Homo sapiens: one gene and its partner. The protein of the gene in region 2 purifies or fractionates together with the protein of the main gene of each other region. This does not show direct contact. Each region holds a gene or a part of one and is shown on either strand. Other genes may lie near its edges.

Evidence for each region. Proteins that work in one complex are often made in the same cells at the same time.
Region 1: the proteins of GARIN1B (region 2) and STYX purify together in Homo sapiens (affinity purification with mass spectrometry; one large-scale study listed by BioGRID and IntAct). This does not show direct contact.

The regions. Positions count from the first base shown.
Region 1 is NC_000014.9:52,749,784-52,754,478, reverse strand, and holds part of STYX (serine/threonine/tyrosine-interacting protein), read right to left. Parts: intron 3,797-4,695; coding exon 3,699-3,796; intron 1-3,698. UniProt on the Homo sapiens protein: Catalytically inactive phosphatase. Acts as a nuclear anchor for MAPK1/MAPK3 (ERK1/ERK2). Modulates cell-fate decisions and cell migration by spatiotemporal regulation of MAPK1/MAPK3 (ERK1/ERK2).
Region 2 is NC_000007.14:128,712,828-128,718,290, reverse strand, and holds the start of GARIN1B (Golgi-associated RAB2 interactor protein 1B), read right to left. Parts: upstream 2,901-5,463; 5' UTR 2,850-2,900; coding exon 2,601-2,849; intron 2,592-2,600; exon of another isoform or gene 1,960-2,591; intron 1,479-1,959; coding exon 1,294-1,478; intron 1-1,293. UniProt on the Homo sapiens protein: RAB2B effector protein required for accurate acrosome formation and normal male fertility. In complex with RAB2A/RAB2B, seems to suppress excessive vesicle trafficking during acrosome formation.

The sequences.
Region 1 (4,695 bases), on a different chromosome or scaffold from region 2:
CACTTTGGGAGGCTGAGGTGGGTAGATCGCTTAAGCTCAGGAGTTCAAGAACAGCCTGGGCAACACAGCAAAACCCCATCTCTAGAAAAAAAAAAAAAAAATTAGCCCGATCCGGTGGTGCACCTGTAGTCCCAGCTACTTGGAAGGCTGAGGCAGGAAGATTGCTTGAGCCTGGGAGGTCAAGGCTACAATGAACAGAAATCATGCCAATGCAATCCAGGCTGGGCAGCAGAGAAAGATCCTATCTTTGAAAAAAAAAAAAGTATTTCTTTCATAATTATAAAAAATTCAGGCCGGGCGCAGTGGCTCACGCCTGTAATCCCAGCACTGTGGGAGGCCAAGGCAGGCGGATCACGAGGTCAGGAGTTTGAGACCAGCCTGACCAACATGGTGAAACCCCGTCTCTACTAAAAATACAAAAATTAGCCAGGCGTGGTGGCACATGCCTGTAATCTCTGCTACTCAGGAGGCTGAGGCAGAAGAATTGCCTGAACTTGGGAGGCAGAGGTTGCAGTGAGCCCTGCATTCTAGCCTGGATGACAGAGCGAGACTCTGTCTCAAAAAAAAAAAAAAAAAAAAAAAAAAATCAGTGTTTTGGGATATTCCTTTTTAATAACTAGTTTTAATAAACTAAATATGGTGTAAAAAAAAAACACTACAAAAGTAAAGAGTCAGCCCTCCATATCCAAGAATTTCATACCTGTGGATTCAACCGACAACAATAAAAAACATTAACAAAAAATAAGGTAAAATACAACACTAAAAATAATAAAAATAAAATCCAATACTATTCACACAGCACTTACACTGTACTAAGTATTAGAAGTAATCTAGAGATGATTTAATGTATATGAGAGAATGTGCACAGGTTATATGCAAATATTACACCAGTTTATATAAGGGACTTGAGCATCTGAGGATTTTGTTATTCATGGGGGTTCCTGGAGGCAATCCCCCATGGATATCAAGGGTACCATGAAAAATATGTCCCTCGGCTGAGCGTAGTGGCTTACGCCTGTAAATCCCAGTGCTTTGGGAGGCCGAGGTGGGCAGATCACGAGGTCAGGAGTTCGAGACCAGCCTGGCCAACATGGTGAAACCCCGTCTGTACTAAAAATACAAAAATTAGGCCAGGTGCGGTGGCTCACACCTGTAATCCCAGTGCTTTGGGAGGCTGAGGCAGGTGGATCAAGAGGTCAGGAGTTCAAGATCAGCCTGGCCAAGATGCTGAAACCCCGTCTCTACTAAAAATACAAAAAAAATTATCTGGGAGTGGTGGTGGGCACCTGTAATCTCAGCTACTTAGAAGGCTGACGCAGAGAATTGCTTAAACCTGGGAGGCGGAGGATGCAGTGAGCCGAGATCATGCCACTGCACTCCAGCCTGGGCAACAGAGCGAAACTCTGTCCAAAAAAAAAAAAAAAAAAAAAATTAGCTGGGTGTGGTGGCACATGCCTGTAATCCCAGCTACTCAGGAGGCTGAGGCAGGAGAATCGCTTGAACCCAGGAGGCAGAGGTTGCAGTGAGCCAAGATCACACCACTGCACTCCAGCCTGGGTGACAGAGTGAGACTCCATCTCAAAAAAAAAAAAAAAACAACAACAACAAAAAAAAACAAAATTAAAAACGAAAGAAAAATACGTCCCTCTACCATCACAGGCCCTGAATTTTCCTTCTTAGAAGCAATCACTATGAAGTTTCTAGCCTCTTGGTCCAGAAATTTTCTATGCATATATTAAGAATAAATATATGGAATGTAGTATATATATATTTACTCAACACATTGCAAATATATACATTGTTCCACACCCTGCTTTATTCATGTAATGCATTATCTTGGAGATCATCCCAAATCCAAACACATACATATATTTCATTCTTTTTCATGGTTACATAGTATTCTATTATATGTTCACACAATGTATTTTAGAGTATGTATCTTGTATTTACAGATATTTATAGATTGGTTTCATTGTAAAAATAAAGCAGAGCATTAAATTTTTTTTTTTATTTTTGAGACAGAGTCTTGCTCTGTCGCCAGGCTGGAGTGCAGTGGGGCAATCTTGGCTCACTGAAACCTCTGCCTCCCAGGTTCAAGTGATTCTCCTGCCTCAGCCTCCTGAGTAGCTGGGACTACAGGCATGTGCCACCACGCCCAGATAATTTTTGTATTTTTAGTAGAGACGGGGTCTCACTGTGTTGGCCAGGACAGTCTCAATCTCGACCTCGTGATCCACCCTCCTCAGCCTCCCAAAGTACTGGGATTATAGGTGTAAGCCACAGCGCTGTTTTTTTTTTGTTTTGTTTTGTTTTGTTTTTGAGACGGTGTCTTGCTCTGTTGCCCAGGCTGGAGTGCAGTGGTGTGATCTCGGCTCACTGTAACCTCTGCCTTCTGGGTTCAAGCAATTCTCCTGCCTCAGTCTCCTGAGCTGCTGGGATTACAGGCATGTGCCACCACGCTCAGGTAATTTTTGTTTTAGTAGAGATGGGGTTTTGCCATGTTGGCCAGGCTGGTCTCGAACTCCTGACCTCAGGTGATCTGCCCACCTCGGCCTCCCAAAATGCTGGGATTACAGGCGTGAGCCACCGTGCTGGCCTAAAATATTTTTAACATATATACTTTTACATAGATATTGAAGGAAGAAGCTGCCTCCCAGGATAGGAGCAAGGTGGCTTGGGTTAAGAGAAAAAGTAGAGTTACTTTCATTATATATGTTTACATATCCTTTCACTTTTGTACCATGCGTAATATACTCTATTTTAAAAATGAAGTTAAAATAAAGAACATTAAAAACCATTACATGCTCAACTGAACTTACAAGATAAATAAGAACATCAAATGAGATACCATTTTTACTCCATTAGACTTTGAGAAATTAAAAATGTTTCACAATTCCGTCTTGGAGAGATACTAAGGGAAGAGTCACTCTCACATACTTGATAATGGGAATGTACACTGATACAACGCACTGGAAAACAATCTGCAACATCTATCAAAATTTAAAATGTTCATACTCTTATATCCAGCAATTCTGCAAATAAGCCCTATCAATATGCTCACATATAAATTGAGTAATATGTACAATGATAGTCACTATATGCTATACATATTAGTACAAGGCCAGAAACAATCTAAATATCTAACAGACTAATTGAATAAATTTTAGTATAGCCATACAATGGATTACAATGCAACTTAAAAAGAATAAGCAGTTTGATATACATACCGATATAAACCAATCTCCAAAAAATATAAAGTAAAAAAGAAAGCCAATGTAAAAAAAAATTTATCTATAAGACTATGCTCATAAATTTAACCTAACACTCAAAAACTACCCAATAAAGAGGTAACAGTAGATGCTGTTTCCCTAAACCTATCCCCTAGATACTCAATTCCTTTATCCCTCAAGAGATAAAATAATGTACACTAAAACCTATTTTTCAGTATACATTATTTTTAAATTCTTTTTTATTTTTACTTTCCCAGAAACTTCTTGACAATATACACTCTTTTGAACCTTTAGAATTCTGCATTATGGGCATAATTTATTTAAGTATTTTAAGTAAAATTTATTTTAAAAAACTATGTACTATATGACCCATTTTTACAAACTAGATATGTACAGAAACAACTGATGGTACAAAACCTGAAATGAAACTTCATTAAGTGTTTTACAAATCATAGCAATAATTCTTACCTAAATAACTGCTGAAAGTTTGGTTTAATAAAGTTTGCTTCAATATTTTGTCGTATGCATATTATATGGGTTATTCCATGTTTCTGTAGTACAGGTAGCTGTATAAAAAAAAAAGCAGGGGGAGGACAGGGAAGATAAATATTTTAAAATATCAAACATCATCTTACTATATAACACAGATGTTTGAAAATACACAGAACCCACATCTCTGCTTAAGTCCAGGGAATTAAAGCTAATTTTATAATATACCTGAAGTGGGCAGCAAGATATTTCAATGATTCAAGATTAATACATTAATGTCCTCAAAAGGTTAACAGGGATATTTCATACCTACAATTTTAGAGCTTGATGGAACCTTTATGTAAGATGTTTGGCATAGCACCTGGGACACACAGCAAGTGTTTAATAAATGGTAGTTAATATATATTGACTGCAATCTTTATTGTTTAGAGAGAACCACTAAGACATAAAACAGTTACATTACCAAATACTTGGACATCACCGACCTAGTTAACAGCAGTACTGGAACCCAAATCTCTAGACAACTCCTTGCCTCTCCCAGTATACTTTAAGAGTCAGAATTAATTTACATACTTCACAGAATCTAATTAACCTTTTACCATTTAAAAATTTTCCTGAAGTTAAAAATGGCAACTTCAATGACATCTTATTATATTCAATACAGGTTGAGTATCCCTTATCTAAAATGCTGGTCCCAAGGTAGGACCAGAAGTGTTTCAGATTTCAGATTTTGAAATATTTGCATATACATACTCAGATGTCTTGGGGATGGTATCCAAGTTTAAACACAAAATTCATTTATGTTTCACACACACCATATATACTCTGAACGTAATTTCATACAGTCATTTGGTGCATGAAACAAAATTTTGACAGTGACCCATTACATGGGGTCAGGTGTGGAATTCACTTGTGCTGTCATGCTGACACTCAAAAAGTTTCACTTTGGAGCATTTCAGATTTTTCAGATTAGGGA
Region 2 (5,463 bases):
CCGTCTAATTTTTTATTTTTGGTAGAGACGAGGTTTCATCATGTTGGTCAGGCTGGTCTCGAACTCCTGACCTTAGGCGATCCACCTGCCTCTGCCTCCCAAAGTGCTGGGATTACAGGCACGAGCCACCGCGCCCAGCCAAAATTTCTTTCTTGAAAGCACCAAAGGAGCTTGCCCCACTGTCTGGCTTGTGCATTTATTGAGTTTAATGCCACAGTTAGTCTTCCCAAGGGAGTTAAAGTTCAAGGATCTGGCTTTGGATCTAATATTAGTCAGCTGGGACTGGGTGGTACTTGCTAGAGGTACACCAAGAACATCATGGAGAGGTGTGTCACTGAGGTAGCATGGAGAAATGAAGGGTTTTCTTGGACTTTTGGGAATTTCTAGAGATTCTTGAGATATCCTACAGATTATTTAAAGAGGCCCCAAAATTTAAAAAGGCTACTTCGTCCCAGACAAGCATGATGTCACTATATGCTACAGCTCTAAGTGAGACTTAGTCCCATTTATTTTACTGATTAAAAAAAAAAAACAAAAAAAACCTGGCCGGGCACAGTGGCTCACGCCCGTAATCCCAGCACTTTGGGAGGCTGAGGAGGGTGGGTCACCTGAGGTCAGGAGTTCAAGACCAGCCTGGCCAACATGGTGAAACCCTGTCTCTATTAAAAATACAAAAATTATCCAGGTGTGGTGGCAGGCACCTATAATCCCAGCTACTCGGGAGGCTGAGGCAGGAGAATCACTTAAACCTGTGAGGCAGAGGTTGCAGTGAGCCAAGATCCCACCATTGTACTCCAGCCTGGGCGATAGTCTTTTTTGAGACTCAGTCTCAAAAAAAAAAAAAAAGAAAGAAAGAAAAAGAAAAAGACAAAGAAAACTGAGGAGCAGCAAATAACTTGTGATTTTAAAAATTGAGTCCAGTTAGTTGTACACCAAGAACTAGAAATAATCTCCTTTCCCCAACCAGTGCTCCATCTGCCAGACTCACTGCCTCCTTGCCCTTGGGCCCAATGCTGAGAGATTTCCTATGAATTCAGTGGCGTCTGTGCAGCGAGAAAGAAAGTGGGCAGGTAGACTAGCCCCTGACTCCTGTCCACATGACATCTCCCTTTGTCCCACTTGGCCTCTGTCCTTCCAGTGCAACACCTGTCTTAGGATACTCTGTTGTCTAAAAAAATCAATGTCACTGCTGATGACATCTCTATCTTCTCCTTGAGTTTAGTAGTCAAGCAACCTCCACTTTGCATCCACCCCTCACCCCTCTTGTCCTCCATTCTCATCTGCATTGCTCACCTCTTCAGGAAGATGTTGGGGGCTATGGATGGTCTGTTCCATGTCTGGTTCTGCCCCTGGTGCCATTTGACACTGGCCATGAGTAGGATGTTGGGGAGGGGCAGGCAGGGTACCGAGGAGGTCACCCCCAGGGCCATGGTGTTGGAAGCTTTGTAGACGTCTCTCCAATTCCTGCCCCTTTTGACCTGCAACACAGCCCCCAGGCACAACCTGAGCATTTGGCAAAAGCTGCAGTCTGTTTCAGCCCAGGGTTTCTCAACCTCGACACTATTAATGTTTTGGGTTGGATATTCTTTGTTGAGGGTAGGATACTGCCCTGCACACTAAAGAATGCTTAGTAGCATCCTTGACCTCTACCTACTAGTTCTAGTAGCACTACCAGCCAAATCGTGACAATAAAAAATGTCTCCAGACATCGTCAAATGTTCCCTGGCAGTTGGGGCCAAAAATCAATTCTTGTTGATAGCCACTATATTGATTAAACAACTACTAGTATTTAAACAATATTTCAACCACCCATTTGTTAACAATTGCCCACAGGAATTACAACCCAGGAGTTCCCTGCCATCTGTCATTTCTGCCAATCCTCCCTGGACTGTTTCCTGGCCTTCTTTGAAAAATGTATCCTCTTGGTCCTTCCCCGAGGTGCCCTATTATCTCCTGCACCTTCACTGAACAGGAAGGTCCTCTCTAACTCCAAAGTGCTGTTCATTCTCGCTTCCATCCAACCAGAGGAGAGCCCAGGCAAGGAGACGAACGTGCACCGAGTGCCTGTTAGACAAGGTACTTTTCTTGCTGTATTTGCATTTCATCCTCAGGTCAGTTCAACCCTTTTACAATCAAGGGGCCAGATTCAGGCTGCACAGGTTACTTGCACAGTCACCTCCCAAGGAGAAGGCAGAGGACTGGAATCTGAGCCCAGCTGTCTCTGGGACCCCAGGTGCTGTTCTTTCGCCAATCCGCATTATTGTTCTCAAGAAGCGTCTCTTTTTACTGCCTCTTTGTTCATCTACTTCAGGTGACAGCCTGGGGGCTGAAGTAAACTGGGGGATTAGATACCAAATTCTCCACTCAGAGCAGAGGACCCCTGACCTTTCTCCCTGGGTGACAGCTGTCTGTAGGAGAAGCCCCGTCTGGGGCTCAGCAAAGCCCAGGTCAGTGAGGGTGGCCTTGCATTCCAGGTCCACTAGCTTCTCCTTGCCTCAATTCTCACTCTGCCCCAGTTTCAGGGATGGACTCTCTCAGTCATATCTTGGGAACAGGTTTCGAAGAATCAAAGAGTGCTATTCTGCGCCACCCAAGAATACCTGGATGAAGTTGCTTTCAAACACCACGGAGTCAAGAAACAGGTTGAATTCTGGAGAATGAACCACCCGGCAGAGCAGTCCCTCCTCCACACCTAGGCCCGCTCCAGGGTTCGGCTCTCCATCCACAGGCAAGAGGCCCCTGAATTCTTCCCAGGCATTCAGGGAAGGGAAGGTTGGATAGGATCTTGTGACTTTTACTGTCTTCTTTGATTTCCTCCAAGTCTTTCTATGTGGAAATGATGACAACATTTCTACACATGCTCAGGGGCCTGCTGCACATTTGTCCTGGGATCTCTGTCTCCCCTCCTGGCCTTGGGCAGCTGGCCAAGCCCTGGGACCACCAGTCAGCTCACAATGATGAATGGATGACATCATGAAAAACCAGGACAGACCTGCAGGAAGGGGAAGTGCAAAGGAGCCTCCCTTTTCCTCCAGAGAGCTTGTGTGCCTTATCCGTGCCTGGACATTCCCCAGCCCTTTTCGGAACCCCAGGACATAGTCCTCCCGGAACTTGCTGAGAAAGCAGTGAGCCAGGCAGAAAGCAAGCAAGGAGGGCTGTCAGGAAGATCCTTCCACTGCTAAGAGGAAAATGCCCTTCCTGCCTTTCAACCCTTCCTTACTCTGAATGCAACCTATCTCACACAACTTTAAAAGCTGCATGTCCATTGAAAACCCCATCTTCCTAAGCTTTGCAGCATGTGGGCCCCCGACACCCTGGTGGATCTGCAGGTTATGGAAGCAGTTGCAGGGCAGTTGGTGCCTGCTCTGCATTCTGCCGCGGCAGGCTGGTTACTTCTGCAGGACTTACTTCCCTTAGGAGGTCAAACTGAAGAAGCAGGAGAAGTAATTAGTTTCTTATCCAGAGGCTGGCTTTGTCAGGGCGCTGGCTGGGAGGAATAGAACCCCGATGAGCAGCTCTGCTAGGTCCCAAGCTGTTCCCCCTCTTGGAGAGTGACAGCATCCCTCACCCCTGAACCAGAGGAGGAAAGAGCCCAAATCATGGGCTGCTAGGTCAGGAAGAAAGAACCAAGCAGGCTGACCACTATTCAAGGCCATTCCTGGGAGAAACTGTTTTCTAATTTGGACCAAATTCTAAATTTTTTTTTTTTTTGAGATGGAGTCTCGCTCTTGTTGCTCAGGCTGGAGTACAATGTGCGCGATCTCGGCTCACCACAACCTCTGCCTCCCGAGTTCAAGCGATTCTCCTGCCTCAGCCTCCCGAGTAGCTGGGATTACAGGCATGTGCCATCACGCCTGGCTAATTTTTTGTATTTTTAGTAGAGACAGGGTTTCTCCATGTTGGTCAGGCTGGTCTCGAACTCCTGACCTCAGATGATCCGCCCACCTCGACCTCCCAAAGTGCTGGGATTACAGGCATGAGCCACTGTGTCTGTCCCAAATTCTGAACTTATTACATAATGAATTAACCATCAAGGTCAAATGTAACACATATAGACAGAGTTTGACAATCATTACACACAAAGGACAAGCATGGAGGCTGACTTTTGTATTTCATTATAAAGTCAGGGAGAAGCCTAAAGGGCCTGGAGGCTCTCACCATCCAATTCCATCAGTCCTTCCCTCTGGTCATTCAGATCACACCCCTGCTCCAGCACCTGTTATAGCTCCTGGCTCAGTAAACCAACTTCCAACCTCACTTTTCTCATTATCTTTTGTTTACCAGGTAGGAAAAGTGTCTTCATGGTCACATTCTCTAAGGATTAGATCAGAGACCACATCCTTTGGTTTGCATTTCCCTGGAAATAACCTAGAAAGGGAACACACAGCACAAAAGCGTAGTAATTAATAAATTGATACGTTGCTGTTCACAGTTAAAGCTTAACCACAACAATAAAGCTCATTGGTTTAGATATACAATTTGAGTATACTTGGCCACTGAGACATCCAAGAGTCAGTTGGGGAGATGACTTCTTCTCTTTTCCATACAAGTCTGTTAAGCCCACTTCTATGGTGTTCAACCCTCAGAGGAAGAAGGCTTGGGTGCCCAGTCTAGAAAGCTGATTGTGAGCAAAGGATTTTTTAGCTCTAAACAAGATGCTAAGCAGTTTTGTAAATGGTGCTTTAAGGTGGCTCACATCTGTAATTCTAGTGCTTTGGGAAGCCTAGGCTCCTGGGAGGATCACTCTAGGACAGGAGTTCAAGGCTACAGTGAGCTGTGATCTTGCCACTGCACTCAAGCCTGCACGAGAGAATGAGATCCTGTCTCTATTAAACAAAAAAATGATGTGCACCCCTTCCTACTTCCCCTGCAAACCTCAAAAACAAGCATATTGAATCTTTTTAGAAACCATGTGACAGATACTTAGTTGTCTATTAGTTGTCTGTCCCAACACCCATTCTGTTTCTTTCTTTTTTTTCTTTTTGAAATAAGGTCTCACTCTGTGGCCCAGGCTGGAGTGCAGTGGCACAGTCTTGGCTCACTGCAACCTCCATGTCCCGAGTTCAAGCAATTCTCCTGCCTCAGCCTCCCGAGTAACTGGGATTACAAACGTGCAGCACCATGCCTGGCTAATTTTTGTATTTTTAGTAGAGATGGGGTTTCACCATCTCTACTAAAGGCTGGTCTCGAACTCCTGGCCCTAAGTAATCCAACCGCCTTGACCTCCCAAAGTGCTGGATTACAGGCCTGAGCCACCATGCCCGGCCCATTCTGATTTTTTAGTAATAGAATACTTGATCATTAGTTGGGCACAGGTCTCCTGTAAGAAAGATTACATTTCCTGGCCTCCCTTGCAGCTAGGTAAGACCATGTGACTACCTTCTGGAAAAGGAGATGTAAAATTATTTACCAATAACTTTAAGCAGTGAAGAAAATAGGGTTAATTTACAGGAAATTAGGACT